Homo sapiens: one gene and its partners. The protein of the gene in region 1 purifies or fractionates together with the protein of each later gene. This does not show direct contact. Each region holds a gene or a part of one and is shown in the gene's direction. Other genes may lie near its edges.

Evidence for each region.
Region 2: the proteins of BMP1 (region 1) and RMND5A purify together in Homo sapiens (affinity purification with mass spectrometry; 2 studies listed by BioGRID and IntAct, with this or other methods). This does not show direct contact.
Region 3: the proteins of BMP1 (region 1) and POGLUT2 purify together in Homo sapiens (affinity purification with mass spectrometry; 2 studies listed by BioGRID and IntAct, with this or other methods). This does not show direct contact.

Annotation. Positions count from the first base shown.
Region 1 is NC_000008.11:22,189,301-22,193,046, forward strand, and holds part of BMP1 (bone morphogenetic protein 1 isoform 3 precursor), read left to right. Parts: exon of another isoform or gene 1-119; intron 120-1,785; exon of another isoform or gene 1,786-2,295; intron 2,296-2,748; coding exon 2,749-2,851; intron 2,852-3,746. UniProt on the Homo sapiens protein: Metalloprotease that plays key roles in regulating the formation of the extracellular matrix (ECM) via processing of various precursor proteins into mature functional enzymes or structural proteins.
Region 2 is NC_000002.12:86,718,157-86,721,902, forward strand, and holds the start of RMND5A (E3 ubiquitin-protein transferase RMND5A), read left to right. Parts: upstream 1-2,134; 5' UTR 2,135-2,511; coding exon 2,512-2,653; intron 2,654-2,825; exon of another isoform or gene 2,826-2,966; intron 2,967-3,746.
Region 3 is NC_000013.11:102,797,312-102,801,057, reverse strand, and holds the start of POGLUT2 (protein O-glucosyltransferase 2 isoform 1 precursor), read left to right. Parts: upstream 1-2,081; 5' UTR 2,082-2,387; coding exon 2,388-2,569; intron 2,570-3,746. UniProt on the Homo sapiens protein: Protein glucosyltransferase that catalyzes the transfer of glucose from UDP-glucose to a serine residue within the consensus sequence peptide C-X-N-T-X-G-S-F-X-C. Can also catalyze the transfer of xylose from UDP-xylose but less efficiently.

The DNA of each region.
Region 1 (3,746 bases):
CACTCAGCAATGAATTGTGGTCGCCGTTCCATGCCAGCACTCAGTCATTTTTATGGCTGCTTAGAATACTATCGTCTTGATTTCTCTCAATTTAATTATTCAGTTGCCCCCTGAGGTCTCTATTGATGGAGATACACACACACACACACACACACACACACATATCTTATATATTATATAATATATAATATAAATAATAAAACCAAATTTCCATTCAGTGAGCCAGTGCAATCCCGGCTCACTGAAGCCTCAGCCTCCTAGGCTCTGGGGATCCTCCCACTTCAGCCTTCCTGGTAGCTGGAACTACAGACACATGCCACCATAGCTGGCTAATTTTTTAATTTTTCTAGAGATGGGGGTCTCACTGTGTTGCCCAGGCTGGTCTCAAACTCCTGGACTCAAGCGATCCTCTTGCCTCAGCCTCTCAAAATGCTCAGTTACAGGTATGAGCTACCATGCCTGGTCCACATTTGGTAATGAGATGCCATCTACTCCCTCGCAAGAGCTAGAATGGACTTGCATCTTCAGAGTTTCAAAATGCCAGGACTTATAATAGTAACAATAACTTTTGATGATGATAATAATAACCAAGAGTAATATATAGTGTGCTTTTCTTTATTTTATTTTATATTTTTTTCGAGACAGAGTCTTCCTCTGTCACCCAGGCTGGAGTGCAGTGGCATGATCTAGGCTCACTGCAACCTCTGCCTCCCAGGTTCAAGCGATTCTCCTGCCTCAGCCTCCTGAGTAGCTAGGATTACAGATGCCCACCATCACACCTGGCTAATTTTTTTTTGTATTTTTAGTAGAGATGAGGTTTCACCATGTTGGCCAGGCTGGTCTTGAACGCCTGACCTCAAGTGATCCACCTGCCTTGGCCTCCCAATGTGTTGGGATTACAGGAGTGAACTACCGCGCTTGGCCTGTAGTGTGCTTTTCAAAAACATGATCTTACTCAATTATATCACAGAATACCACAATTAATAAAAGGTCCCCCAAATAAATATAGTTAAACTCATATATGAATTTTTAAAAAGAATAGAAGAAAAAGGATGGGCTGTGGAGCTAAGCTGGGTAAGGAGAGAGAGTAGATGGGGGTGACCGGCAGTGGCATTGCCCTGGGTGCAGTGGGTTGAAAGTCGCAGTGATGAGAACTGACGGAAAGGCTGGAAACTGAATGGAGAGTGGGGCCCTTGAAACTGAGATTATGGAGGGGCAGACAATTTTCGATGAAGCCGGCCTGCACGGCGTGACGTGTTGGTGTGTGGCCGGGAAGGTATAGAGAGGTGGAGAGAGGAGGTCGCAGAACTGAGCGGCCAAGAAGTGGGAAGGGTCCTCTAGGCGGACATTGGAATCACCAGGTATTCTGATAGGGCCCGTGTCAGAGTGACCAGGAGCCAGGAGCTCCTCCCCGACTAGCATTGATGCTGGCTACAGACAGCCACTGCCAGTGCCCACCTTGGAATCTTTTTCATCCTGGCCTCCACTCTGCCTCTAACTCTCTAAGAAGGTACAAGGGAGGCAGACGGTCCCCTTCTCTAGCAGAGAACCCAGCTCTCCCAGAGCAGGACACCCCTGAAACCATCGAGTGTCCGCTGCACTGGCCTCGCAGGTCACGGTGAACACATCCCTGGAATCCCTACTTGTTGGAACTCTGAATACACAGCAGGCTTTGGGCCCACTCTGGGACCTACCGAGGAAGTGGTTTCCCCCCGGAAGTGGAGGGAAGCCATTAAACTCTCTACCTGTTAAAATGCCCACCTGCTAAGGAGGATTGGTACTTACCAAGATGTAACATTCCTCCAGTAGCGAGCGAGCGTTTCCTGAGCTTGGAGCCTGAAATGAGGTGCTCAGGACAGACAGTGCCTGTGCCTTGGAAGTGTGATGTCAGGGTAGGGACTCTTCTCCCCATTGCACGCAGGACATAGCAGAGGCTCAGAGGTTGCGTGGTTTGCTTGATGACTCACAGCAGGAAATGCAGAGTGGAGATTCACACCCAGGCTGTTGTGACTGGGGTCTGAGCTTTCTCACGCGTATGTCTCATCCCTCCCTAAGCCTGGAGCTTCTTGAGGACAGGGACGGATTCAGATCTGGTGTCCTTTCAGCAGTTAGTGTGTCCCCCTGCCCAGAATCAGTACTCAATAAATGATGATGGGGCCGGGCACAGTGACGCACTCCTGTAATCCCAGCACTTTGGGAGGCTCAGATCGGAGGATGGCTTAAGCCTGGGAGGTGGAGGCTGCAGTGAGCTGTGATTGTACCATTGCACTCCAGCCTGGGTGACAAAGCAAGACCCTGACTCAAAACAAACAAACAAACAAAAAAGTGATGATTGGCGACTCAGCCCTTCTTTCCTCTTGCCTCTCCTCTTGGGACCCTTCGTCGCTACTTCAGACCCTCCAGTACCCTCACGCGGCCCTTGGCCCTTCCTACCACTGTAGAGACCAGTTCCTCTTGAAGATATTGTGGGTTGTGTTATCTAATTGACTATGAAGAGAGCTGGAGCCAGGGGTTCTACCCAAAGTGACGTCTCCTTCCCCTCCTGGGCCTTCTAGGAAGAAAGCTGACCATACACAGACAACTGTGGAGGAGGGGCGGTTCTGTGCCAGGAGCTCCTTTTGGGAGCCCCTTAACTCTCGCCCAGGGGGACCTGCCTCGCGTAAGGCGGGCGGTGGTCATCATGGGGCTGGCAGAGGGCTGGTGCAATGTTCGGGACAGCTTAACCCTCTTCCTCCCCTGTTGCCCTAGATCATCCTGAACTTCACGTCCCTGGACCTGTACCGCAGCCGCCTGTGCTGGTACGACTATGTGGAGGTCCGAGATGGCTTCTGGAGGAAGGCGCCCCTCCGAGGTAACGGCACCAGCCACCCCCTGCCCCCTCCATGCTGATTCCCTCTCTGAGCCACCCTCATCACACTCTTCATCCCCCTCCAGGGCCCAACACTGGCCAGGGATGACAACCTGGTATGGGAGCCAGGAGTCCTGGCATCATTAGTCCCAGATAGCTGCATTACTCACTTGCTGCGAGACTTCAGGCAAGTCCTGTCCTCAATCTGGACTTCAGAGTACCCAGTCCAGACTTCTGGGCCTCCCTGTGAAGTTGGCTGTCACCCTACGGGTGCAAGGAGTCATCAGAATTGACTGAGAGAGACAGACAGGCTGTTCTGCGCATCCCCATGGCCCCAGGCTCTCTTCCTCATCTGGGCACTTTCAGAGGATCCACTATTTTTTTCTATCTGCCCTTCTGGTTTTTGAGTGCCCACAGTGCAGCCTGGCTCAAAAGAGAGTCATCATAACCTGCCAGCCCATCTCCTAACTCACTGCCGAGGGCTGCACACTGGGCGCCGTGGCCCGACCTTGTCTGCATAGGATACTTTGTCCCGAGGAGGGTAGGGGGCAGGAGGTGAGTCAGTGGGAGTAAGTGGGTCAGAAGCACAGAACAGAAGGTGCTTTAATGAACCTAGAATTAGGGCAAAGGGAGGCAGGTGATCCTAGAGGGTATTGCAGCAAGCCCGAGGAGCCGTGTGAATCTCCTCCTAGCTGGACGTGATCGTAAGGAGCTCAGGACCACTCTTTGGCAACAGAACCTCTTCTCCTCAGCCTATGCCTAAAACAGCCAGACGGATATTGCTAACCTCTATTTTCCCCCCAGTTTCCGATATTTAAATATTTCTTTTTGGTCACTCAAAGCAGCTGTCCTTACAACACTTCCTCTCGTAGACGTGTTAGTGTTTTTCCAAGATGGG
Region 2 (3,746 bases), on another chromosome or scaffold:
GTGGATTATCATGGCTCTTACCTTGTGCCAGGCATTTTGTTGAGTGCCTTAAATGGAATATTTCATACTATAACAACCCTTTGAAGGAGAAGAAAAAAAAAAGACTGAGAAAAGGGTGACTGAGCTTATCAAGGAGATCCTTGAAGAAAAGGGAGGAATAAACATAGATTTGTCTAGGCAGTTTGGCAGTGAAAGAAATGAGTGCTTGAGGAGGGTTAAATTAAGTTTCCTCCCCCAGGTAGGTCAAACCCATTTGGGCTGAAAGTAGAAAGGAAGAACCTACTGCAGAGAAAGAGGGGGAAGATCTGGACAGGGGTGAGAGGCAGCCCGCAGGCCCCAACGGCTGTCTTGGAAAGGGAGAAGGGACTCCTGGTCCTTTGGGTACATGAGAATGTTCACAAAATGGGTGGTACACAGCAATACTTGGAGAAGAGTGATAGAAGTTGCTGGAGCTAGATTTTTTTTTTTTTTTTAATCTCAGTGAAGAATCAGAGACATCTGCCAAGAGGGAAGAAAAATGGGGTGGGGAGAAGGGAGATCTGAAATAATACCAGTTGGGGCTGCCCTAATAATGACTACTACCACCTTTATCATGTGGTTATCATGAGCCTATTATGGGTATTTACATATATTCTCCTTTATCTAACAATTTAGTTAAGTATTAATTCCAATTATTTCTCAGTTATACGGAAGTTAAGGCTCAAAAACGTTATCACGTTAATTTAAGAAAAAGAATTGCCTACCACCTCACGCCAGGGGCTGTTCTAGGCAAAAAATTTAGACAAGCAGGGGGCCTGCCGTCATGGTTTTATGTAAGTGGTGCAGACAGAAAAATAAAACATCAGATCATTTCAGAGTTTAAGTGGTGTGGAAATAATAAAATGTGTTATGGTATTAACGGTGGGGAGGAAGTACATTAGTGTGGTCAGCCAGGGGAGGACCCTGTAAGGGGACAAGTGAGCTGAGAAGAACTTCAGGATGAAAAAGGTAGGAGGAAGAGTTTTCTGGGCCAAGGAAAGGGCAAGTGCAGAGGCCCTGAGGCACGAACTAGCTGGGCTCCTGAAGAAATGCAAAGGTAGTGCAGCCGATGCTGATCAAGGAGGTCTAGGCCAAGGCTGCAGACGCCATAGCAAGCGATGGGAAGGATTTACCCGAGGGGGTAAAGCCGATCCGATCCGATAGCATAAGGCTTCCTAGGGAGCAAGGGCCAGGCTGCCCGGCTCTCCAGCGCGTGTTCTTTCCACCCGGCTAAGCTGCCCGGCACATGGCTCTGGGGCGAGGCCACCGTCAGGAGAGGTTCCAGGCCAAGGGGCCAAAGGGCCACGGTCCGCGGGGGATGGGGACATGACCTCCTGGGTGTCGCAAGCCCGGGGCAGCGCTGACAGCCGGCGCGGGCCTTTCGCGAGCAGCAAGCGGCTCCCCTCACCCGGGCCCAATCACCCCCGCCTTTAATTCCCATTAGGGACCCCCCGCCGACGCAGAACCAGCCCCCGGGCGGCCTGGCTTGGTTTTTCATTCCCGGGAGATGGATCCGTCGCCCAAAAGTTCGGAATGACGGTACCCCTTTCCCTTAAGATCGATGAGGAGACGAAATAAATTGGGATCAGGGCGACGTCCTATGGAAAACAGCCTTTTGTATTTTTGTCTAGTTTTCCCCCAAGGCTTTCCATAAACTACTCGTTTCTCGGTACGCTCTCCAAGTCACCCCCTCCAACAGCGAGCCCGTTGGTTTGGCCCCTCAGCCCGGATTGGCTGAAGGCTTACGCCTCGGCCAGGGATTGGCTTCTTACCACTCCCCGCGCCCATTGGTTGGGGTTCCCCGCTTCTGGGCGGAGTGGTGAGGGCCGGTTTCCGCCTCCTTGTTTATGGAGCGCGTAGTTGTTGCGCTCTCCGAGCGCTGGGGCTGTCTCCAAAGTTCCCTATTTAGCTCCTCAGGCCAATTGGGGCCTCGCTCCACCCTCGCCCTCTCCCTCGCACGCCTTCCGTGTGGTACGGCCCACACCATTAGAGTGGCGGCGCGTGTGGGCGCCCGTCGCGTTCCTCCGCCCGTTCTCGCCGGGTCGCACCCCCCACCCCGAGGGTGTACTTGGTACGGCCCGCGCCGCCTCCTTTCCTCGCCCGGGTGGCCATCCCCCTCCCCCCAGTCGGCGGCGCTTGGTGCCGCCCGGGAGAACCAGGTCATCGGTCGGTTCCCGTGAAAACAAAAACAATCGGCCGCGCCGTCGCAGGCACCCGAACGTCGCGAGCGGGGCCTGGGGACGCGGAGCCGAGTGCAGCGAGCGAACGGGAGCAGCGGCGACTCGCCGGGGGGCTAGGGCGCCATGGGGCAGGCGGGCTCCGGCTGCGCGGGGCTCCCCCGGCGCCGCGGCTAGTGCGCCCGCCGCCTCGGCCGCCTCAGCCTCCCGCGCCGCCCGCTTGGGGAACGAGGAGCAGGACGCGGCCTCGGTGGGGCCCGGGCCGAACGGCTGCGGACACCTGGGCGCCGAGGAGCCGAGCGCCGCCGCCTCCGGCATGGATCAGTGCGTGACGGTGGAGCGCGAGCTGGAGAAGGTGCTGCACAAGTTCTCAGGCTACGGGCAGCTGTGCGAGCGCGGCCTGGAGGAGCTCATCGACTACACCGGCGGCCTCAAGCACGAGATCCTGCAGAGCCACGGTAGGGCGGCCCGCGTGGGCGCGCGGGGCATGGCCCACTGCCCGAGCCCCGGTCCCGGCCCCGCGGCGGGAATCCCTCACCCACCCTCGCGCCTCTGGCCCGGCCCTTGCCTCCCCTGAGGCGCGGAGGCCCCCAGACCCCTGAGACTTTTTCCCCTCTTCGTCCGATTTACCTCGAACCTGCCGCGACCTCGCTGCCAATTCAGAAGGAGCGCGAACCACCCGGAAACCCAGCCGGGAGCGGCGGGCTCCAGTCCGGATAAACGTGGGTGAGGGGGCCGCCCATCGCACCTGCAAACTGCCGACCCCCGAGTGGGCGCCCCTCGTCCCCCGCTCCCAGCCGGCCCCGGGAGTCTCACGTGGTGCCCGCGGCGCTGTTCTGTGGGCGGTGACTGAATCGCCTGGGACCCCAGGTTCTGAGTGATGAGGGCAGTGCAGGAAGCTCCGTTTCCCCTCTGTGCCGCCCCGAATCCTTGGCCAGGGGACTTCGTTTCTTCGTTTTATTTTGGAAAGTCGAGCGTTATTCTTAGCTGTGGGTTAACAACAGCCGCTCCTGCAACTTCATGATTTGGCTGCTGTGTGGACGCAGCTCTTAACTCCGCAGCGGCTCTGACATGGTTCCTTGGAAACCAGCTCAATTCAACCCTTCTGTTCTCCCAGTGTACCTTCTGATGACACCGAGGAGGAACGGGCGACATTTGCCCAAGTAAATTGTGCACATGTTGCTAGTTACTTGCTTTGCCTGGTTAAGTTCGTTCAAAAAAAATAAATTTTCCTATAGAAGGTGTTTCACCTAGATTGTTTTTTTTTTTACTGCCCCAAGCCCTGAGGACAGGTACTTTTAAAGGTTTGGTTTTCTTACACTTTAGAAGTCACAGCGATGATTCCTTTTGATCAAGAAGTGAAGGACTTATTTAATGGGTCTTTAATAAGAGGCTGAGGGGGCTTTTCAGCTTGTGGGCTGAACAGAAATTTATGTGAAGGACGGTTTGGTAGCTGGGGGAAGATGCAGATTATTTGTGGCAGGTGAGATGAGGGCAGTGGCGTTAGCTGAGTGTCTCTCTCCTTCTCCTTCATTTTTTCACACTTTCCCA
Region 3 (3,746 bases), on another chromosome or scaffold:
GTCCATTTGTAAAGCCAATCTTCATCGCCTAGGTTGTAGTCTTTTCAGGTTATATTTTGTCTGTATTCTCAAGTATCAAGTTTATGAGAGAACCAAACATCTCTAAAAACCTCTTCAGTAAAGCCTTTTCGTATAACAAAATACCCTGATCGATATCCTGTATAGAAGGCAACTGAGGAGCAGGGGCATTCCGGTGACCTCGTAAGGGTCGAATATGCGCGGGAGGGCGAAACCAGAGGCGCATAGCCCCCGGCCGAGCTAATGCCACCCTTCCCACCCGGTGTCCTCCCGCGCCCTCCAGGCCCCTTCCTCCCCTTCAGACCTGCGGGTCCCCAGAGCCGAGGCGCCAGCCTGTCAAAAGATACCGGGAGTCCTCCGCGCCTGGCGCCAGCCTCCAGCCCGCGCCCCTGGGGAGGCCGGGAGCGTTTCCACCACCGTCCTCTGACAAGCTCGCCGCTCGGCCGGGCTCCGAGGCCGCCGGGACGGAGTAGACAGTCGCGCAGGCCAAGCCCCGCCGCGCAGAACCAGTGCGCGCGGAGGCGACGCGGGCAGAGAGGAAGGAGCGCGGCTGCGCTCCCTGCCCGTGGCCAACCCAGCCCGCGCCTCCGCGCGTGTCGCGGGCACCCCGAGTCCCCAGCCCGCAGAGCCCAAGGGCCGCCGAGGCCTCCTCGCCCCTACTCCCTCCTCTACCTTCCCTCACCGGCCGGAAGACGAGGCTCTCCGCCAGGGGGAGCGCGCCGAGGCCCGGGGGTGACCGCCTCGAACATGCTTGCCCCGGGCCCCGGGGACGCTGTTGGTGTTAAAGGGGGCCCACGGGCAATTGCTGCATCCGGGCTAAGAGCTGGGGCTCCGATTCGACTGTTTGAGTAAACGAGTCGGTATCATTAATAATGACAATTGCACAAAAGAAAATAGGAAAGAAACCCCCTTTCCTGGCGCCGAACCAGGCCCGCCTTGGCTCGGAGCCACCGGCTCTTCTGGGTTTTCGGGGCAGCTGGCAAGAGGGAGGCAGGCAGAGGAGGCGGCTCCGGGTCCGACTGCCAAGCTGACCAGGGCGGTGAGCCCGTGACTCCTGGCGGCGGCCCAGACCCGGGTGCTGGCGTGCAGGGGAAGGCGACGGCCGCTGCGCGCTGGTTCCCGGACCCTGCCCAGCGTGGCGTGGAGACCGACGGCCGCACAGGGGTCACCGGTATCCACATGGACACCTCCTAATCGAGCTTTGTTCACCAGAGGGCTAGGCCCTTCTTTCCCTGGCGCTTCTCTTCCCCCCGCGACACAGCTCTTCCCCCTACTCCTTCCCGGGAGAGCGCGCACCCATGCAGTGGCCTCCATCTGGACGCCACGGGGCTCGGAGAGGCGATGACCCCTGGCAGCCCAGGCCGGTATCGAATTAAGTAAAAATTTTGAATGCCCAGGTGGCTGCGCGTAGAGCGGCAGCAGGCCGGGCTGGCGGCGCCCAGGTGCCCAGCGGAGGGCCAGGCGCTCAGAGCGCACAGCCGGCCGCCACCTCGGCCCCTGCCCCCCGCCCCGGGGTACCTCTGGCCTGTCGGGTGGGGTCGGGTCGCTGCGGCCGCGGCGGAACCCGGCTCCGGACCTGGATCACAGCATCCAGCGCGCGGCCGGCGAGGCGCCTCCTGTTACCCTGGGGCCGGCGTCCCTCGTCCCATCGGAGCGAGCGAGGATGCTGCGGTGCCCGGCGACAGGTCGTCGGATAGCATTGACAGCACCTTCCTTTCAAGGTGCTTTATGCCTGCCCTCTCCACGTGCGGAGGGCAGGGTGACCAACGCAAAAACCTGAGCTGCGCCTCCAGACCCGTGCGCCCCTTTGATGGGCATCTGTGGTGTTTATCTGTCCCCCGAAAGCGGTGACCGAGAAGTAAATAAATGGGCGAGAGGTGGTAAAATCCTGGCAGTATTTCCGCTCGTCCTGTCGCGAACTACATATCCCAGGGAGCCCGGGGCGCCGGGACGCGTGTCCACCCCGCCATCCACTTGGAGAAGGCGTTACTGAGCCTGGCCCGACGCACGGGCCAATCCCCTCGCCCTACACCTTGGCTGGAACCTGAGACGGATTCGCTCCCAAATGATGCTCCAGTGGCAGGAGCAACTCAAGTTCATCATTGTCCTGAGAGAGAGGAGCAGCGCGGTTCTCGGCCGGGACAGCAGAACGCCAGGGGACCCTCACCTGGGCGCGCCGGGGCACGGGCTTTGATTGTCCTGGGGTCGCGGAGACCCGCGCGCCTGCCCTGCACGCCGGGCGGCAACCTTTGCAGTCGCGTTGGCTGCTGCGATCGGCCGGCGGGTCCCTGCCGAAGGCTCGGCTGCTTCTGTCCACCTCTTACACTTCTTCATTTATCGGTGGATCATTTCGAGAGTCCGTCTTGTAAATGTTTGGCACTTTGCTACTTTATTGCTTCTTTCTGGCGACAGTTCCAGCACTCGCCGAGACCGGCGGAGAAAGGCAGCTGAGCCCGGAGAAGAGCGAAATATGGGGACCCGGGCTAAAAGCAGACGTCGTCCTTCCCGCCCGCTATTTCTATATTCAGGCAGTGGATACATCAGGGAATAAGTAAGTCGAGAAACGGCTCCTTACCTATTTTGGATGGCGGTTAAATCTGTTTCTCCCTTTAAGATTTTTCTTTCCAAGAACTCGTTTCTCCACAGCAGTTTATATTCCAGGATATTTGGTTACCCATTTTTCTCTGTAGCTGTAGAAATTGTTCCGAATTATAATATATGCAATATAATGTATTGTATATAACATATAAAATAATCTCCTAGCAATTTTGATTCAGATTCCCACATTATCAGGGCAAGACAAAGTCCCTCCACTTTGCTGGAAATACTGTTTCTAACTACTTTTCGCATAAGCTATTATAAGGGATTTAAACCTAGTTGTTAGAGACTTGATGGGCTTCATCTTTCTCTGGTGCGGCCCTCAATTTTCAAGGAGACATCTGCAGGTAAGCATGTTTTGAAACTGAAAAAGAAAAATGAAGTACTATTTGAAACTTCAGAGTTCGGAAGGAAAGTATCGAAGTATTAATCTCCTATATGATTGTAACAAATATTTTGTTCCAATGAATTTAATACTTTAACATCATACTTAAAACTTATTTTTATAATTCCTATACTTCTGAAATGATTGTCTCTATTATTGGTGGATGCTGACTGTGTGTATTTCATACAGAAAAAAATACTGGAATAAAAGGTTGTCAAGTAAAAGGCAGGTTGTAAATTTTGTTATTTGGCAAAAGATGATACACTACCTACTACTTTGCTTTTGCCCATGGCTGAGCGTGAGTTTTTTTTTTTTAAGACAGGGTTTCACTTCCTAGCCTAGTCTGGAGTGCAGTGGTGCAATCACAGCTCACTGTACCCTCAACCTCCCAGGCTGAAGCTATCCTCCCACCTCAGCCTCCCTAGTAGTTGGGACTACAGGCGTGTGCCACCTCGCCTGGCTATTTGTTTTTTATTATTATTATTATTATTTGTAGAGACAGGATCTCACCTTGTTGCCCAGGCTGATCTCGAACTCCTGGCCTCAAGCAGTCTTCCCTCCTTGGCCTCCCAAGATGTTGAGATAGTAGGCATGGGCCACAGTGCCAGGCCTGAGCGTGATTTATAATACTGATATTGTAAAGATTCATTGGCAGAGATTTTTCAAAATAAGATCATTATCTTTGGGAGCATCATTTGATCACAAATATCCAGATGTGATAGCATGAAATAAGTTAGTAAGAATA